Regions from separate parts of the Homo sapiens genome. Here regions 2 and 3 are each linked to region 1. The links come from fine-mapping of genetic effects on gene expression. A gene starts in region 1. Each other region holds a variant in brackets. All regions are shown on one strand. Distances are from middle to middle.

The links.
Region 2: its variant is fine-mapped to the expression of PKD1L1 in lung (TOPMed, PIP above 0.99).
Region 3: its variant is fine-mapped to the expression of PKD1L1 in cerebral cortex (GTEx, PIP 0.96).

What each region holds. Positions count from the first base shown.
Region 1 is chr7:47,945,108-47,950,810 of GRCh38, reverse strand. It overlaps PKD1L1 (polycystin 1 like 1, transient receptor potential channel interacting), which reads left to right and starts at 2,345. Exons shown (of 57, transcript NM_138295.5): 1 at 2,345-2,414. The coding sequence starts at 2,371.
Region 2 is chr7:47,871,228-47,876,930 of GRCh38, reverse strand. It overlaps PKD1L1 (polycystin 1 like 1, transient receptor potential channel interacting), which reads left to right. Exons shown (of 57, transcript NM_138295.5): 23 at 714-834; 24 at 2,921-3,032. Among named protein-coding and RNA genes, the nearest start is that of PKD1L1, 74 kb to the left of the region's middle. The variant A/G (reference allele first, on the strand shown) is at 2,950.
Region 3 is chr7:47,976,900-47,982,602 of GRCh38, reverse strand. HUS1 (HUS1 checkpoint clamp component) reads left to right here and starts at 2,988. Exons shown (of 8, transcript NM_004507.4): 1 at 2,988-3,135; 2 at 3,787-3,914; 3 at 4,010-4,186. The coding sequence starts at 3,084. It overlaps LOC105375270 (a long non-coding RNA gene), which reads right to left and starts at 161. Exons shown (of 3, transcript XR_927251.3): 1 at 1-161. RefSeq lists an enhancer at 2,918-3,207 and silencers at 3,278-3,337, 3,418-3,467. The variant T/CTT (reference allele first, on the strand shown) is at 2,364.

The DNA of each region.
Region 1 (5,703 bases):
TCTGCAATGATGGAAACATTGTATAGTTTGTATCTTGGCTACTGAGCCCTTGAAATATGGCTAATGATGGAGAAGCTAAAGCTAATTCTTTTTTTTTTTTTGAGACAAGAGTTTCGCTCATTGCCCAGGCTGGAGTGCAATGGCACGAAGTTGGCTCACCACAACCTCTGCCTCCCCGGTTCAAGCGATTCTCCTGCCTCAGCCTCCTGGATAGCTGGGATTACAGGCGTGCATCACCACACCTGGCTAATTTTTTTGTATTTTTAGTAGAGACGGGGTTTCTCCAGCTAATTCTTAATTCTATTTAATTGTAAGTAACTTAAGCTCCAGTAGCTGAGAGTGGCTATGAGAGTGGCTATGAGAGTGCCTCCCACGTAGGGCAGTGCAGGCATATTTCTTCCCTCAATTATGTCACTTTCTTTGCTCCTCCTCATTTCCTGGCATCTTTGGTTAGCACTGCTGGCTTCAAAAACATCACAAACTTTAAATGTAGGCCCTGTTCTCAGGATGTCCAGCCCCACAAGGAAGGAACAGGCAGCAGCAAGGTCAGAGCATCCAGGTGTGCGTGTGGGTATGGATGCCAGCCCAGCAGGCAGGGTTGCACAGGTGTCTTTACCCAGTGGACTCTGTTTAGATTTGACAGGAAGGTGTCAGAGCAAATCACAGGGGCTTCAGAAAGAAGGGATTTTGTTCGTTTACAAACTGCAGTTTGCAGTTTATCCTTTTCTTGGTCACAGGCGCATTTGAAAGTGTATTGCTAATGAAATTGGAAAGTATGCATTTCCCCCAAATCTGAGATTTACTCACAACAAGCACAGTGGGGACAAAGCCAGAGGCACTGACAAGGCAGTGTGAGAAGAGCAGAGGTGGCAGCAGGCCCCAGGAGACAGGTGTGTTAGGTCAACAGCAGGCCCCTTAACCCACCACAGGGCTCTGGTTACTCACCTCATTGGCAGCAAAGTTCCAGAAAACACAGGATCCAAGGCCGGACACCCGTAGCTTGGTTCATCATTGTTCAAGGGGTCTGTGTTCCCATCTGAGAAAGAGCTTGTGCCTGAAAACGTTCCCACTCTTCTTGGTATCACTCTCTTCAGAGTGGAGAGAAAAAATATCTAGTGTTCTGAGTAAAACATTAAGTTTTCTAAAATCTCTGAAGGTTTAAATGTTGGTATAAAGAACTAAGACAACTAACAAGTGCTTTAAAAATATAAGAGAAAATGTTTCGTAATGGAGAGAACTCAGTCTGACCCGCCAGTTGCAAACAAGGAGAGGTGCAGGAGGTTCGGAACCAGATCATTCCTAGGTTCTGCCGTAAGACAGAGTGCGCCTAGTGTGTGCCTTGCCAGCCTTCCTTAGGAATGCTCTTCTGCTCTTGTGGAAGGTATCCTGTTCCCCAGTGCAGTTGTGGACAGTTACAGCTTTTTTTTTTTTTTTTTTTTTTTGAGACAGAGCCTCGCTCTGTTGCCCAGGCTGGAGTGTGGTGGCACGATCTCGGCTCACTGCAACCTCCGCCTCTCGGTTTCGAGCAATTCTCCTGCCTCAGCCTCCCGAGTAGCTGGGACTACAGGTGCGTGCCACCATGCCTGGCTAATTTTTGTATTTTTAGTAGAGACGGGGTTTCACTATGCTGGCCAGGCTGGTCTCGAGCTCCTGACCTCGTGATCCGCCCACCTCGACCTCCCAAAGTGTTGGGATTATAGGCGTGAGCCACCGCGCCCAGCCAACAGTTACAGCTTTTTATTCTCAGACTTCTCTCAGCTTCCATGTACAGTCTCTCCCTTGAGTAGTGATCTGTTTCAGGCAGCCACAAAGATCCCTACCTAAAACACACTTTTGTTTTGTTTTGTTTTGTTTCATTTTGTTTTTGAGGCAGAGTCTCACTCTATTGCACAGTGGTGCAATCTCGTCTCACTGCAACCTCCACCTCCTAGGTTCAAGCAATTCTCTCGCCTGAGCCTCCTGGGTAACTGGGATTACAGATGTGTGCCACCACACTTGGCTATTTTTGTATTTTTAGTAGAGACGGGGTTTCACCATATTGGCCAGGCTGGTCTCAAACTTCTGGCCTCAAGTGATCCACCCACCTTGGCCTCCCAAATTGCTGGGATTACAGACATGAGCCACCACGTCTGTCAAAAGCACACTTCTTAGGAAGGAATTTGTCTGACAGTGTTAGGAAAACAAAAGCTGTTTCTGCTTGGGAAAATGTTACTGGAGTTTGGATTTTTCCCTCTGTGTTTGATGTGTGTCCTGATAAGAGGTCACAAGTACAGAAGCTGGAAGCATTAAGCTCTATTTCTTTGTCTTCCAGAGGATGTAGGAAGAAGCTGGTCTGCTGACTGTCATACTTGTGACCAGCTTGCACAGGACATGGCCGAGGAGGCAGCCCAGAACATTTCTGATGACCAGGAAAGGTGAGTTATCACTGTTCTCAGAGGGTTTGGTAAGCTTGATTTTAAAGTATGCATTCAGAAATTTTCTTTCAAAAGTCATCACCTCTAGGATGTGGGCTCACTCTGGCACGAGTGGAGGCCCTGTACCAGGAGGGTGCATTTGGCCGGCGGGGTCAGTTCAGAGGTTGGAGTTGGTGTTGAGAATGGAGTTTTTTCCTGAAGGCTTTTGAGAAGACTCCTCCAAGCGGATGCCTTCAGCCATGAGAAGTGCTGATTGCTCTTCCTGCAAATGCAGGATACCTTCCAAGTTCGAGGACTTTCTGCTGCCTGGTAGTAGACAAAGTTAAGCTATCTGCTTGTCTGCTAGGTCCCTTGCATGGAGACCAGGAGAAACCTGGCACAGGAAGAGATCATGGGGTCTTGGCCCAGGGGTCTTATTTCTTTTTTTTTGAGACGGAGTCTCTCTCTGTTGCCCAGGCTCGAGTGCAGAGGTGCGATCTTGGCTCACTGCAAGCTCTGCCTCCTGGGTTCATGCCATTTATCCTGCCTCAGCCTCCCAAGTAGCTGGGACCACAGGCGCCCACCACCACGCCCGACTAATTTTTTGTATTTTTAGTAGAGACGGGGTTTCACTGTGTTAGCCAGGATGGTCTCGATCTCCTGACCTTGTGATCTGCCCGCCTTGGCCTCCCAAAGTACTGGGATTACAGGCATAAGCCACCGCACCCAGCCTCCATGGGTCTTATTTCTAAACCCTCTTCCCCATGCTCTGTGCGCGCCAGCACCCATGTGTTGTTGAGGCTGGGCAGCCTGTGTGCTCTGCTGTTGACTGTCTCATGGCAGTGTGACATGGTGCAAACCTCCATGCCCCCTTTCCTGGGCGTGAGGCCAGCAAGGTGACCTGCCTGTGGGATGTGGTAAGGACCCAGGTGGGTCACCGCTGTCCCCTGGCCTGGCATGATGGGAGCCTGTGCCTGCAGATCTTGCCCAGTGGGGTACCCCGCCACTGCAGGTCACTTTACCTCCTCACCCCCAGATTTCTCATCCTGAAAATCTGAGTACCCCTGTTGTCACATCTGTAAACTCCAGAGGGTCGTTATAAAAATCAGTATCCTTGATGAATGCTTGCTGTCAGCATTTCTGCCTTTGTTAGCTTACTGTCTTTGTGCCATCACCATCATTTTATCAAAGAAACCCAAAGCAAACCAGGATGAGAAAATGAGGCTGCACGTGTTGACGGGGTTGGTCACATTCATGCTTGGAAATTTCTTTGCCTTATGTCACTCACTGCTGCCAAGCATTGTCTGATTTTGGCTACAATTTTTTCCCTTATTTTTTCTGGTTACCTCATGTTTCTTTTATTCCAAATGCCCATGCTCCTGCAGACTCCCAGAGCCTTGATGTTGGCCCAATTTGACCTTCACTCTTATCAGTCAGGGAATTGCAAGGAATTACCCCTTTGCCCTTAGAAAGGAAAGAAAAGCTGAGGAGCGGAAGTCGCTGACTTGATGTTTTTTCCCCTGTATATTTATACATCTTGTACTTGCAGACCAACTAGTTCATGCACGCACTAGCCATTGTAATTGGTGTCGAGGCCCCATTTCTGAAGTCATAGCCTTTTGGGGTTTCCTGAGTCACCTAAAGCAAGACAGTGACTGATCTTGTTCATAGAAACAGAAGAGGTTTCTTGACTCTCCTGTAGCCCTCATTTCATGGAGTTAGGCCTGTAGTGTCTGTGTGTGTGTGTGTGGTATAGGACATGTGTGTGGGTGGTGTGGTGTGTGGTCTGTGTGTAGTGTGTGGTGTATGTGTGGTATGGTATGAGTGGGGTATGGTGTGTGTGTGATACATGGTGTGTGCTGTGTGATGTGTGTGTAATGTGTTGGTGTGTGTGTGGTGTTTGTGTGTATGGTGTGTTTGTGTGGTGCGTGGTGTGTGGTGTGTGCGATGTGTGTGTGGTGGGTGGGTATGTGCTGTGTGGTGTGTGTATATTGTGTGTGATGCTGTGTGGTGTGTTTGTGTGGTGTGAGTGTGGTGTGGTGTGAGTGTGTGGTGTGTGTTTGTGTGGTAGGTATTTGTCCTAATGCTCTCCCTCCCCTTGCCCCCCAGCCCCTGACAGGCCCCGAAAAACACTCACTCTTAAGGGATTCTAAGAGATCTGTCATGTAATTCAAACAAATGGCTCGACTAGTTCCCTTGAGGCACATGATGCCTCAGAGACTGTGTTTGAGCCATCAGTATCATCCTGTTCCCCGACAGTCACAGTTAACTAAGAGGAAGCCAGGTACCTCTGTGAAAATGGTGCTGATTCTGTGCCAGGGCCTGGGGACCTGCCTCCTCACAACACCAGGAAAAAGAGCCTCCCTTGTATTTAAATTATCTCCCCCTTCCATTTTTTTTATTTGAAAAGACCTCTGAAATCTCAAGGAAAATTAGCTTTGCAGCACTATCCTTGGCGCCTCTGTGAGTGGAGGACACACCTGTTGGGGATGTGTTTCTCACCTTCTGAGACAGAAAATTACTTCTCAAGGGCCAACTATGTCCCAGGAACCAGGGCTGGTGTTTTCTGTGTGTAGCACTTGGAAGTTATCCTGTTGTGGGGGTGTCTGGGAGGGTCTCGGAACTTGGTGGGTGCCAGGGCTATCTAACCTTGTGTGGGCCCAGAGTGGTGGGCAGTCTCACAGCTGTGGACTGTGGGGCGCACGTGGTGGACAGAGGTTAGGTTCGTCCTTTCCTTAATTTTATTTGCCCGCTAGATCATTGCAGAAATCCTCTAAGTCTGATCTGGTCTGGTCTGTATGATTCCAAAGTTGTCCCCTTTTCTATTATTGTTATTTTTTATTTTTTCATTTCTCTGGCCTTTGGAAGACAAGCATAGTTGAGAGTAGGCAAGGAAATCCTTGGAATTATTCAACAGTTTGAGGCCTTTGACCTAGTGACCATCTTCATCTTCAAAATAACAGCTTTTCACCTCCCTGCACACTTTCCTCAACTATAAATATTGTCCTCGTCTGCCCTCTGGTGGCGGCTTCTTGGGCATCAAGAACCAGGCTTGTAAAAATTGGGTGAAACTATCCAGTTTTATCTTTGTAGAAACCTTGCTTAAGATAAAGTAGATATCCTCTAGACTTTATAGACATCCAAGACAGGTAAAAAAGAGAATTCTAAAGAGCTGAATGCATTTTTCAGGGGAAAGAACAAAGGCGAACACCTTTAGCAGCTGGTTACCAAGCATTTAGCTAATACAGGGCGGCCCTTTCTAGAATGACAGTCCTGGCAGCAGCCCCGTGAAGTAGGTCTGTGTCGTTCC
Region 2 (5,703 bases), 74 kb after region 1:
GTAGGTGCCTGTAATCCCAGCTACTTGGGAGGCTGAGGCAGGAGAATTGCTTGAACCCAGGAGGCGGAGGTTGCAGTGAGCCGAGATCGCGCCATTGCACAGCAGCCTGGGAGACAGTGTGAGACTTATCTCAAAAAAAAATTTAAAAAAAGATGAATGCCTCAGGTGATGGGCAGGCAGGACAGGAGCCTGTGATATTGTGACCCTGGCACTGCCCTCTCCATCCTCTCAGCCAGGACACTGACCTCCCTGCCCTTCTGCCTGACCCCTTCTGTAGGAAGCCCCACCCTTGTCCTCCAGAGGTCCCAGACCATGGCCTTCCCTTGAGGCACCCCGACCCCTCCCTCCTGCTCCTCCTGCTGTGTGATGCCCAGCAGTGTGGAAGCTGAGGGGCAGCTGGGGCCCTTCACCCTGAGGGGGCTGTGACAGTCTGATTTGTGACTGTGGGGAGGTTCCAGGACAAGGAGAGGACACAGACACTGGTGGGGAATCTCAGTGTTGTTCGAGGAGCCCTTTGGGCTTGGTGAATGGAGAGCCCTGCAGGGCCCAGGGCTCTGGGCAGCTGGGAGTGCTGCTTACCTGTCACTTACCCTCTTCCTGGCTGTAAAGAATGTCCTTGGTACAATGAAGGCTCAGCTGTGTGTGTATGTATTGTGATATCATTCACAGTGTGTTCATTTATACTATTTTTGCTCCCTTGGACTGGATCATAGGACTTCCATTATGAATTTAGTTACCAGATAGGAAACACCTCCAAACACACTTTGTACCATGGGAGAGACACCCAGTATTATTTTGTGTTGCCAGCTGGTGAGCACTTGGACAATTACAAAGGTAAGCTATGGTGCCAGTTGGAGTCACTAGCTGTGCCAACCTACAGTTCTAAACCTTTTTTCCTGGTTTTCAAAAACTAAACTGTGTCTAGAAAATAAAATCACCTTGATCAGTTTAATGCTTTTCAGTTTAGGTTTATTATCTACCTTTTAGTGCAGAAAGAACATTAGTAATATCAATAAATTAAATCAGTTTTTTATATCTTAAATTTTAACTGAAATACACTGTAAATGATAAAATGCCAGAGAATGTTTTTTCATATATAAATTAAATATTTAAAATCAGGACATTTCTTACTTACTAATGAAATATGTCATATCTGGTGAATCTTGCATTTATTATAGATGAAACCAAATCAAGGTATCCCCCTAAGGAACAAAATGTGGGGTAAATGAATGTGAGTTAGCATGTTAGTAACATAACCTCAAAACAAAATGAATCCCACAGTGTTTACAACTTTCTGCTCTGACCCTGTTCCTGAGGTTGTGGTTACTTCTAAACCAGTCCCTTGGAACTGGCTTCAACTGAGCATAAGAGACATGCAGCCATTTAGGAAGGTATCTTGACATGTGCAAACCCAGGCTGGTTAAATAAAAATCTTGGGGGTTGGTGACTTTTTAAGTTTCTGTTTTATTTTTTAAATGCCTGGAAGATTCTGATGTGCAGGGAAGGTTGAGAGTCACTGATCTAGAAGTTTCTTTAATTTGGACTGGTAAGATTATTAGAGCCTGAAGTCTGAACTAGTTCATTCACTTGATTTATTTAAGTTTCACCTCTCCTTTAAGCCAAGCTGAAGTTCCTTCTTCTTCATGAAACTTTGCCTGTCACCTTCAGTTAGAAACACTTGTACCTTCTTCTAGATACAAATCAATTATATTGAGCAAAACTTCTGAGCAGGGCATTTTGAGATCTTCATAATCATGCTCTGCTTTGTATCACAGTGACTTTGTACTCCGTTTGATCTTGAGTTTTCTTGAAGTCAAGCTGCGTACGGGGTTATGTGAGACTTAGGCTGGGCAAATGTTCCAATAGAAGGACCTTGGGCCAGGGCCTCAGCTCTGTGTTGGAAGTAAAGATTTCTTAACATAAATTTACAGACCAAATTTCAGGTCACAGTCCCAGAGCAGTGTCAGGGTTAGTGATGTTACTCAAATCATTCACAACCACAATTTGTTTGTAATTGTCACTATCAGTACAGCCAATTCCTATGAATACCTGAACTCAAGATTTGTAAGGGGGCGAACATAAGCAAAATAAATACAATATAGTAAATACTTAATACATACCTTTTCTTGTCCCATCTTTTGCATGAGTGAGTGTGGCGCAGACTCAGCTTGTCAAAATAAGTGGAGTCTTGCCTAAAAACTGCTCCTTTGGGATTTTCTATATCCGTGCATAGGACCAACCTTATCTGTTAAGGGTATTTGTTAAAATTGCTGCCTCCAGAGCCCACCTAGTATCCACTGACTCAGGATTGTGGGGAGAAGATGGAGCACGGAATTTGCTTGTAGACGAGATGCCTGGCGCTTGGGCTGCAAGTGTCCATAGACCACATCTTGAGAAGTGTCAACCTCCAAAATTAAGTCCCCAATCCTTGGCACTGAGTTTCAGGTTGAAAATGTTGTTATAAAGATACATAGGGCACACCTGGGCGTCGATCTTTCTATGTGGTTCCTATGACGGTGCCTGTGGCCCTTAGCATCTGGCCATCACCTGCACTCTGAGCCTGATCTGCAGGTCCCCTCACCACAGCCCTGCACCCCTGTTACATGAAGGAATTCCTGGGTCCCCCAAATAGGTCTTATGTCTTTTAAAAAGTCCCCTCTGTCAGAATTCTTCACCTTTTTTCTAGGCCTGTTAAATTTCTATATATCATGTAGGAACTGGTCAAACTATAACCCCAAGCCTTGACAGTCCATTGCCGAGTTTGTATTTCACTCCCTGGGCTCCCTGTGGCTCGGAGCCTGGCCCCTTTGTCAGCACTTGTCACAGTTTTAGTCATCCAGAAGATGCTGTCTGTGTGTGAAGAAGCATCTCTGTAACCCACATGTCCAAGATGACCCTCTTCTGACATGTTCCCTCACAGTCATGGTTTCCACTGAAATCACAGATGGC[A/G]AAGGCTCCAAGGTCCAGCCGTGCACTGTGGTGGTGACTGTGCTGCCCCGCTACCATGGAAATGACTGTCTGGGCGAGGACCTGTGAGTAACACAATGCCACACAGACATCCTAGCCATTATTTGTATTTCTTCCAGAGTTGGCTCTCCCCCAAGTTGTTAACAAGCGTCAAAAACATGTCAGGAACTCATCTTCTTAAGATGGAGCAAATAAAAAAGTCCGGGTGCTATCACTGCAATCCTGCTAACTCATATTTGCATGGCATTCTTGCAGGTGCTTCAGAGCCTATAAAGCTACTTTCTTCTCCTTCTTTTTTTTTTTTTTTTTTTTTTGAGACAGAGTCTCCGCCTGTCACCCAGGCTGGAGAGTGCAGTGGCACAATCTCGGCTCACTTGCAACCTCCACCTCCCGGGTTCAAGTGATTCTCCTGCCTCAGCCTCCTGAGTAGCTGGGATTACAGGTGTGCGCCACCAAGCCTGACTAATTTTTGTATTTTTAGTAGAGATGGGGTTTCACCATGTTGGTCAGGCTGGTCTCGAACTCCTGACTTCGTGATCCACCCGCCTCGGTCTCCCAAAATGCTGGGATTACAGGTGTGAGCCACCGCGCCCAGCCTCACTTTCTTCTTTTTTAAAAACAGTTTTTAAAGATATCATTTACATTCCACATGTTCATCCATTTAAAGTATGCAACTCCTTGGTTTTAATAATTTATTGAATTATACAGCCTTCACCATAAGCTAGTTTTAGACAATTTTTCATCATCCCGTGAAAACCTTGACTTATTAGCAGTCACTCCCTTTACCCACCACCCAGCTTCCTCCCACCGGCCCCGGACAACCACAAATCTATTTAATATCTACAGGTTTGCTGATTCTGAAAATTTCATATAAATGAGATAATATAACATATGATCTTAAGTAACTGTCTTTTCACTGAGCATGTGAATGTTTTTGAGTTTCATCTATGTAGCAAAATATATTAGTACTTCATTCTTTTTTGTTGCTGAATAATATTTTATTGTATGAACATATCATATTTTATTTATTCATTAATTAGTTGATGGATGTGTGGGTTGTTTTCACTTTTTGGCTATAATGAATCACACTGCTATGAACATTTATGTGCAAGTTTTTGTGTGAGTGTGTGGTTTCATTTTCCTTGGGTAGGTAACTAGGAATGGAAACAGTGTCCTATGGTAACTACCAAACTATTTTCCGTAGTGGCTGCACCATTTTGTATTCCCACTAACGAGGTATGAGAGTTCTGGTTTCTTGATATCCTAACCAACACTGGTTATTGTCTTTTTGTTCACAGCTGTTCTAGTTAGTATGAAGTGGTATCCCATTAAGGTTTGGACTTGCGTTTCTCTAATAATTGATGAGGTTGAGCATCTTTTCATATGCTTTGTATATCTTCCTTGAAGAAATGTCTGCTTAGTACTTTACCCATTTTTATGTAGGTTATCTGTATTTTTATAATGGATAACCTAATTAAAACGTTTGTTTCTTGATTCTCAATTCTATTCCATTAGTCTGAATGTCTCTTCTCATACCAGTACTATGCTGCCTTGATTATTATAGTTTAGTAGTAAATTTTGAAACTGAAAAACCTGAGCCCACTAACTTTGTTCTTTTTAGAAGGTTGGGTCTTTCAGGTCTCTCATATTTCCATATGAGTTTTAGAATCAGCCTGTCGATTTCTGCAAAAACAAAGCAGCACAGGCATGGGACAATGGCTTTGGTGCCGGCCAGCCTCTCCAGCCTTGCTCTGGCTGGGGCAGACTGGGGCTCCAGACTCCTGCTGCAGGGGGTAGAAAAACAAAACAAAACAAAAGCTAACTGGGATTTTCATAGGGATTTGTCAAGTCTGTACATCAGTTTGGGGAGTATCTTGTATCCTATAACCCTGCTGAACATGTTTGTTAGTATTAATAGTTTTTTACCGAATTCCTTGAGATTTTCTCTATATAAGATCATGTCATCTGTCACTAGAGATAGCTTTGCTTCTTTCTTTCTAATCTGGATGCCTTCCATTTCTATTTCTTGCCTAATTCTCTTGACTAGAACCTCCATTCAACGCTGAACAGAAGTGGCAAGCGTGGAAATCCTGGTCTTCTTCTCAGTTTTAAGGAGGAAGCATTCAGTCTTTCACCACTTCATATTAATATTAGCTAGAGGTCGTTCACAGACAACCGTTATCAGATTGAGGATGTTCTCTTCTATTCCTAGTTTGTTGTGTGTGTATTTCATTATAAAAACGTATTGGATTTTGTTAAATGCTTTTCCTAGGTCTATGGAGACAATTATATGTTTTTTGTCCCTTAGTCCATTAATTTGTTACGTTTTGGATGTTTGTGTCCTCTCTAAAATTCCTGTTCAAACTATCCCCAGTGCAACAGTAGTTAAGAGGTGGTGTCTGTAGGAGGTGATTAGGCCATAAGGGTTCTGCTCTCATAAATGAAATTAGTCACCTTATAAAATGGCTGGAGGGAACTAGATAGGCCCTCTTTGGTCGTTCTGTCCCTTCTGTCATGTGAGGTCACAGCCTTCTTCCCCTCTGGAGGAGGCAGCAACAGGTGCCACCTTGGAAGCAGAGAGCAGCCTCACCAGACACTGAGCCTATTAGTGTCTTGATCTTAGACTTCCCAGACTCCAAAACTGTGAAAATAAATTTCTGTTCTTTATATATTACCCAGTCTCAGGTATTTTATTATAATAGCACAAACTAAGATACAAGTTATATAAAATTGATT
Region 3 (5,703 bases), 32 kb before region 1:
CCCCACTAAACAAACTTAATGAACAGCGTGAACACTGTTTCCCAAATCATTGTGTGACTGAATTACTAATCCCTGACATTTGGCAGTTCTTAAGTCAGAAGGCAATTTACTGTAGCTAGATGAGAACATGAATATACATTGCATTAGAAAACTCAGTGGTACATGGGGCTTCTAGAAATCTCTAGAGATCACATTCCTTGCCTCAAAATCATTTGGAAAGTAGAGAAGTAGTGTCAATATACTTAATTGTCAATTCTGAAGTTAATGAATTAATTTGCTAAACCTGTTTAAGAAAATTGCAAGAGCACATAAAAGATTCCTTTCTTCTTCCAAGAAAAGATAATTGCAGCTTTATTTTCTATTTCTTGAGTCAAATTCCTATATTATTTGGGCTTTTGTCCATGCAGAATGTATCATATCACATCTTCTTAGGAAGTTTAAAAAATTGCTTTATCAGTTTTTATGACATAAAATTAAGCAATTTACACTAAAGATCAAGATGTTACAAAACATTGTTTACAAAGTTTATTTAGATACATTCTTTAATTATATTCATTTATCTACTAGCAGCCACTTTATTTAATGTGATGCTCAACTCTTCAAAACTCATTCATGAGGAAATTAAAAAACAGGCTTTTTCCTGCAGATCATATGGGGCAAATAAAAAATGTTGGCATGGCCGGGCTCAGTGGCTCACGCTTGTAATCCCAGCACTTTGGGAGGCCGAGGCGGGCGGATCACGAGGTCAGGAGATCGAGACCATCCTGGCTAACACGGTGAAACCCCGTCTCTACTAAAAATACAAAAAATTAGCCGGGCGTGGTGGCGGGCGCCTGTAGTCCCAGCTACTCGGGAGGCTGAGGTAGGAGAATGGCGTGAACCCGGGAGGCGGAACTTGCAGTGAGCCGAGATTGCGCCACTGCACTCCAGCCTGGGCGACAGAGCGAGATTCCGTCTCCAAAAAAAAAAAGAGTTATGCCAACATTTTTTTTTTTTTTTGAGACGGAGTCTCGCTCTGTCGCCCAGGCTGGAGTGCAGTGGCAGACCTCTGTTCACTGAAATCTCCGCCTCCTGGGTTCAAGTGATTCTCCTGCCTCAGATTCCTGAGTAGTTGGGATTACAGGCACAAGCTATCACGCCGGGCTAATTTTTGTATTTTTAGTAGAGACGGGGTTTCATCATGTTGGCCAGGCTGATCTCAGACTCCTGACCTCAGATGATCCACCCGCCTCGGCCTCCCAGAATGCTGGGATTACAGGAGAGAGCCATCCTGCCCTGCCTGTTGGCATAACTTTGAAAGTGATCTATTAAGTTTGGTTTGGCAAACACTCGCATATGACAATGAAGATTAGAATTTTGCTTCATGTTATAGTCTTAAAATAGGCAAAAACTGCAATTTTTGTATTTTGCACCTTTTTATTATTATTACACTTTAAGTTCTAGGGTACATGTGCACAACGTGCAGATTTGTTACATAGGTATGCATGTGCCATGTTGGTGTGCTGCACCCATCAACTCATCATTTACATTAGGTATTTCTCCTAACGCTATCCCTCCCCCAGGCCTCCACCCCCCAACAGGCCCCAGTGTGTGATATTCCCCTCCCTGTGTCCATGTGTTCTCATTGTTCAACTCCCACTTATGAGTGAGAACATGCGGTGTTTGGTTTTCTGTCCTTGTGATATTTTGCTGAGAATGATGGTTTCCAGCTTCATCCATGTCCCTGCAAAGGACATGAACTCATCCTTTTTTATGGCTGCATAGTATTCCATGGTGTATATGTGCCACATTTTCCTTATCCAGTCTATTATTGATGGACATTTGGGATGGTTCCAAGTCTTTGCTATTGTGAATAGTGCCACAATAAACATATGTGTGCATGTGTCTTTGAAAATTATCTGGGCCTGGCGCGGTGGCTCACGCCTATAATCCCAGCACTTTGGGAGGCCGAGGTGGGCAGATCACCTGAGGTCAGGAGTTCGAGACCAGCCTGGCCAACATGGCGAAACCCCGTCTCTACTAATAATACAAAAATTAGCCGGGCATGGTAGCTTGTGCCTGTAATCCCAACTACTTGGGAAGCTGAGGCAGGAGAATCCCTCGAACCCGGGAGGTGGAGGTTGCAGTGGGCCAAGATCACGCCATTGCACTCCAGCCAGGGCGACAGAGCCAGACTCCGTCTCAAAATCATCATCATCATCATCTGCATTATCATTATCTTGATTCTATGTGTCAAGTTAAAGACAAGGTTCTAGTCTATTTGCAAAGGACATTAAAAATAACAATTGTTAACACAGATAATCTTTAGTCTTTGAAAAACCAAATTAGATACAATTGTTGCTTCATTTCCCCCTTTAAAATTT[T/CTT]TCCTTTAAAAAAAATCCTAATGACATTATTTATGCTAATAAGAATTTTATCGGATGTAATAAAGTTCGTCTTGAGGCAAACTGCAGAATTATCACTTAACGTCAGTGTTCTTTAAGCTTCCCGACTTTACCAACTAGCCAGTAATATGTTCAATTTTTTTAGAAGTCATTTGAAACAATTTTCAGAACCTTAATCCACCAAGATGCTTCAATACCAAAGTACCAGTACCGTCATCTGAGGCTGGAGGGTTTAAAGCTGCTCTACCTTAGGTATATTTAAGATAATATTGTTTAACCTTTATAAACGATTAATTTTATTTGGATATTTTAAAATAACACTTGAAATAGGTGTCACAAAATTCTTTCAAAACGTGAATTCTCAGAACAACCTCCCCGAATCTGGGGCTTGAAGCCTCCGCCTCACTAAAAGTAGATCCCACCATTACCCGGCAGCGCGGAGGCATACCCGGAGACTGGGACCCCCACCTCCCCCGGGGCGTGACCTGTGATCCTTGACCCGTGACCCCACCTCCTCTAGGGCGTGACCCCCTAGCCCCACCTCCTCCGGGGCGTGGCCCGGAGATAACCCTGGTAAGAGTCGCGTAGCCCGAGCCGGGCGGAACCACTGTTCGCGCTGCCGTGTTTCCGGGCGGGGACACTCAGGGCGCGACGCTTTTCTGTTACCCACAGAGGCCCGCCGCGGCTGCGCCATCCGCGGCCATGAAGTTTCGGGCCAAGATCGTGGACGGGGCCTGTCTGAACCACTTCACACGTGAGCAGGGAGGCCGGAGAGGAGCGAGGGAGGAACGGAAGGAAGCAGTGAGCGCGCGGTGGGGACCGCGCAGGAGGATCAGAACGGGGATGGGCGCCGGAAGGGGCCGCGGGAGGATGGGGCCGGGATGGGGGTGCTGGTGTAGGCCGCGGGAGGGTGGGGCCGGGAGGGCGCGGGGCGGGTCGGAGGGCACTTGTGGGGATGAAGGCGGCTTTCAAGGGACGTTTCTGAAACTTGATTCCGATCACGTGGCTTTAAAAAAAAGCGGCCACTGCTCCCATAGACGGCTTTATCAGGCATTGACATACCTTCAAGGCCCCATTCGTCCCTCCACCCTGACAGTGCCTAACCTTGCATTTAACTGTGTATTGCAGTACCTAGTAGTCAATAAATCCATGTTGAATGAATGAATGACTGGTAGGTGCCTGTTTTCTTATTTGAACACTGATGATGTGTGCTGTACATCTCCCCTAGTTTGTTGGGAGAATTGCGTGACATCAGGGGTATTAAAGTACTTTCCAGTGTGATACCAACGTTAAGTGGTTATTTTTCCACCGAGAAGTTGATGAACAAGAAATTCTGCAAAATAAGTTGGTCTCTAGGATACATAATGTGCATTTTAGTAATTCCTTATTTTAACCCCTGCTTTAGGAATCAGTAACATGATAGCCAAGCTTGCCAAAACCTGCACCCTCCGCATCAGCCCTGATAAGCTTAACTTCATCCTTTGTGACAAGCTGGCTAATGGAGGAGTGAGCATGTGGTGTGAGCTGGAACAGGTGAGCAAAAGCTTCTGAGAGGCCTGCACACTCTGCAGATTGTCACTGGAAAGATCACATATACCCTCCCTCATCCCTCATTTTTTTTCCCTTAGGAGAACTTCTTCAACGAATTTCAAATGGAGGGTGTCTCTGCAGAAAACAATGAGATTTATTTAGAGCTAACATCGGAAAACTTATCTCGAGCCTTGAAGACTGCCCAGAATGCCAGGGCTTTGAAAATCAAACTGACTAATAAACACTTTCCCTGCCTCACGGTCTCCGTGGAGCTGGTGAGTAGGAGAGTCAGGGTTTCTAACACAGAAGTCTTGGCCTCGAAGGAATAGACATAGTTAGCCTAGCCTTTTTAACAATAAATACTGTTGAAAGCTGTTTGGTTTATTTAAATTTAAAGATCTGGTCCATAACTATATTTTGCATTAGAGTCAGTTCCTCCTCATTTTAAAATTGTGTTGTTATCATATGCATTCAGCTAGAATGCTGCTTTTTCCAAGCCGTGAAACTTCCAGCCTCTCTGTTTCTTGTAGTGGTATTGTCACCTTGTCTAGAAATCATGGTTTCTCTATCCATTTTCACCTTTGACATGTTTTCTCCCCACTCCCACCCTGCCTCATCTGCTATAATAACCTTTAAATGGCCCCTCGTTCTTCAGTACACGTATGTTTTATATGCTACTGCCAGATGAATTTAGTGCACAGCTGTCCTCCAAACACACAAATACACAAACTCATGCGCATACATACAATCCAGAGTTGCTCTTCCTACTCATAGAATGAGGTTCGTATTTCCTTTTTTTTGAGACGGAGTCTCTCTATCACCCAGGCTGGAGTGCAGTGGCGCGATCTCGGCTCACTGCAACCTCCATCTCCCGGGTTCAAGCGATTCTCATGCCTCAGCCTCCTGAGTAGCTGGAATTACAGGCACCCACCACCACACCCAGCTAATTTTTGTATTTTTTTAGTAGAGTCGGGGTATCACCATATTGGCCAGGCTGGTCTCGAACTCCTGACGTCAAGTGATCCACCTACCTCGGCCTCCCAAAGTGCTGCGATTGTAGGCATGAGCCACGGCGCCCAGCCCAGCTTTTCTTCATAACTCTCAACTCTTTGCAGTCAGGCAGTTCTCAGAGCTAATTAGGGCATTTCATGTCACAGTATAAGTTTGGTATGTTTTTTCTATTGCTTAAGGAAAAGCAAGATAGTAACGTATAATACTTTTTGTCCAAAAGTGCAAGATATTTTGGTCTGTGAGTCTCATAGGAGCCCCTAGAAATAAATATAGTTTGCCTTTTAACTGTTAGAAACTGCAGCACTCTGAGTGTCCTATGCCCAAAGAATGGCCTTCTCTTGGTTGCGTCAACATAGCAGGCTTGCTTCTTTCTGCCTCACGGCTTTACATGTGCTGTTTCCCCAGCCTGAAACCCTGTCCCCTTGTTCTTGTCTTCCCATGGCTGCTGCTTCTCCTGCTTTTGGTGGTATCTGAAATGTCACCTCCTCAGTCTAAGGAAACTCCCCCACACTCACCCTGGTCTCTGTGGAGTGCTTTCTCACGGCTATAATGAGCATTTCATACAGTTTCATTTGTTTGCATTTTTATTGATCTGTTTGTTCCACTGGAACACTAAGGACCTTTTTGTCTTATCACCACACTTCCCAGTTCCTGGAAGTACCCAGAGTCTGTTCCATAAATATTGGCACCATCAATATTGGTCGAATGGCTTTTGAGTGAATAAACTGACAGCATTCCACTTAGATTTGGTATTTCAACTTTTTTGTCCCGGGTCTTCGGG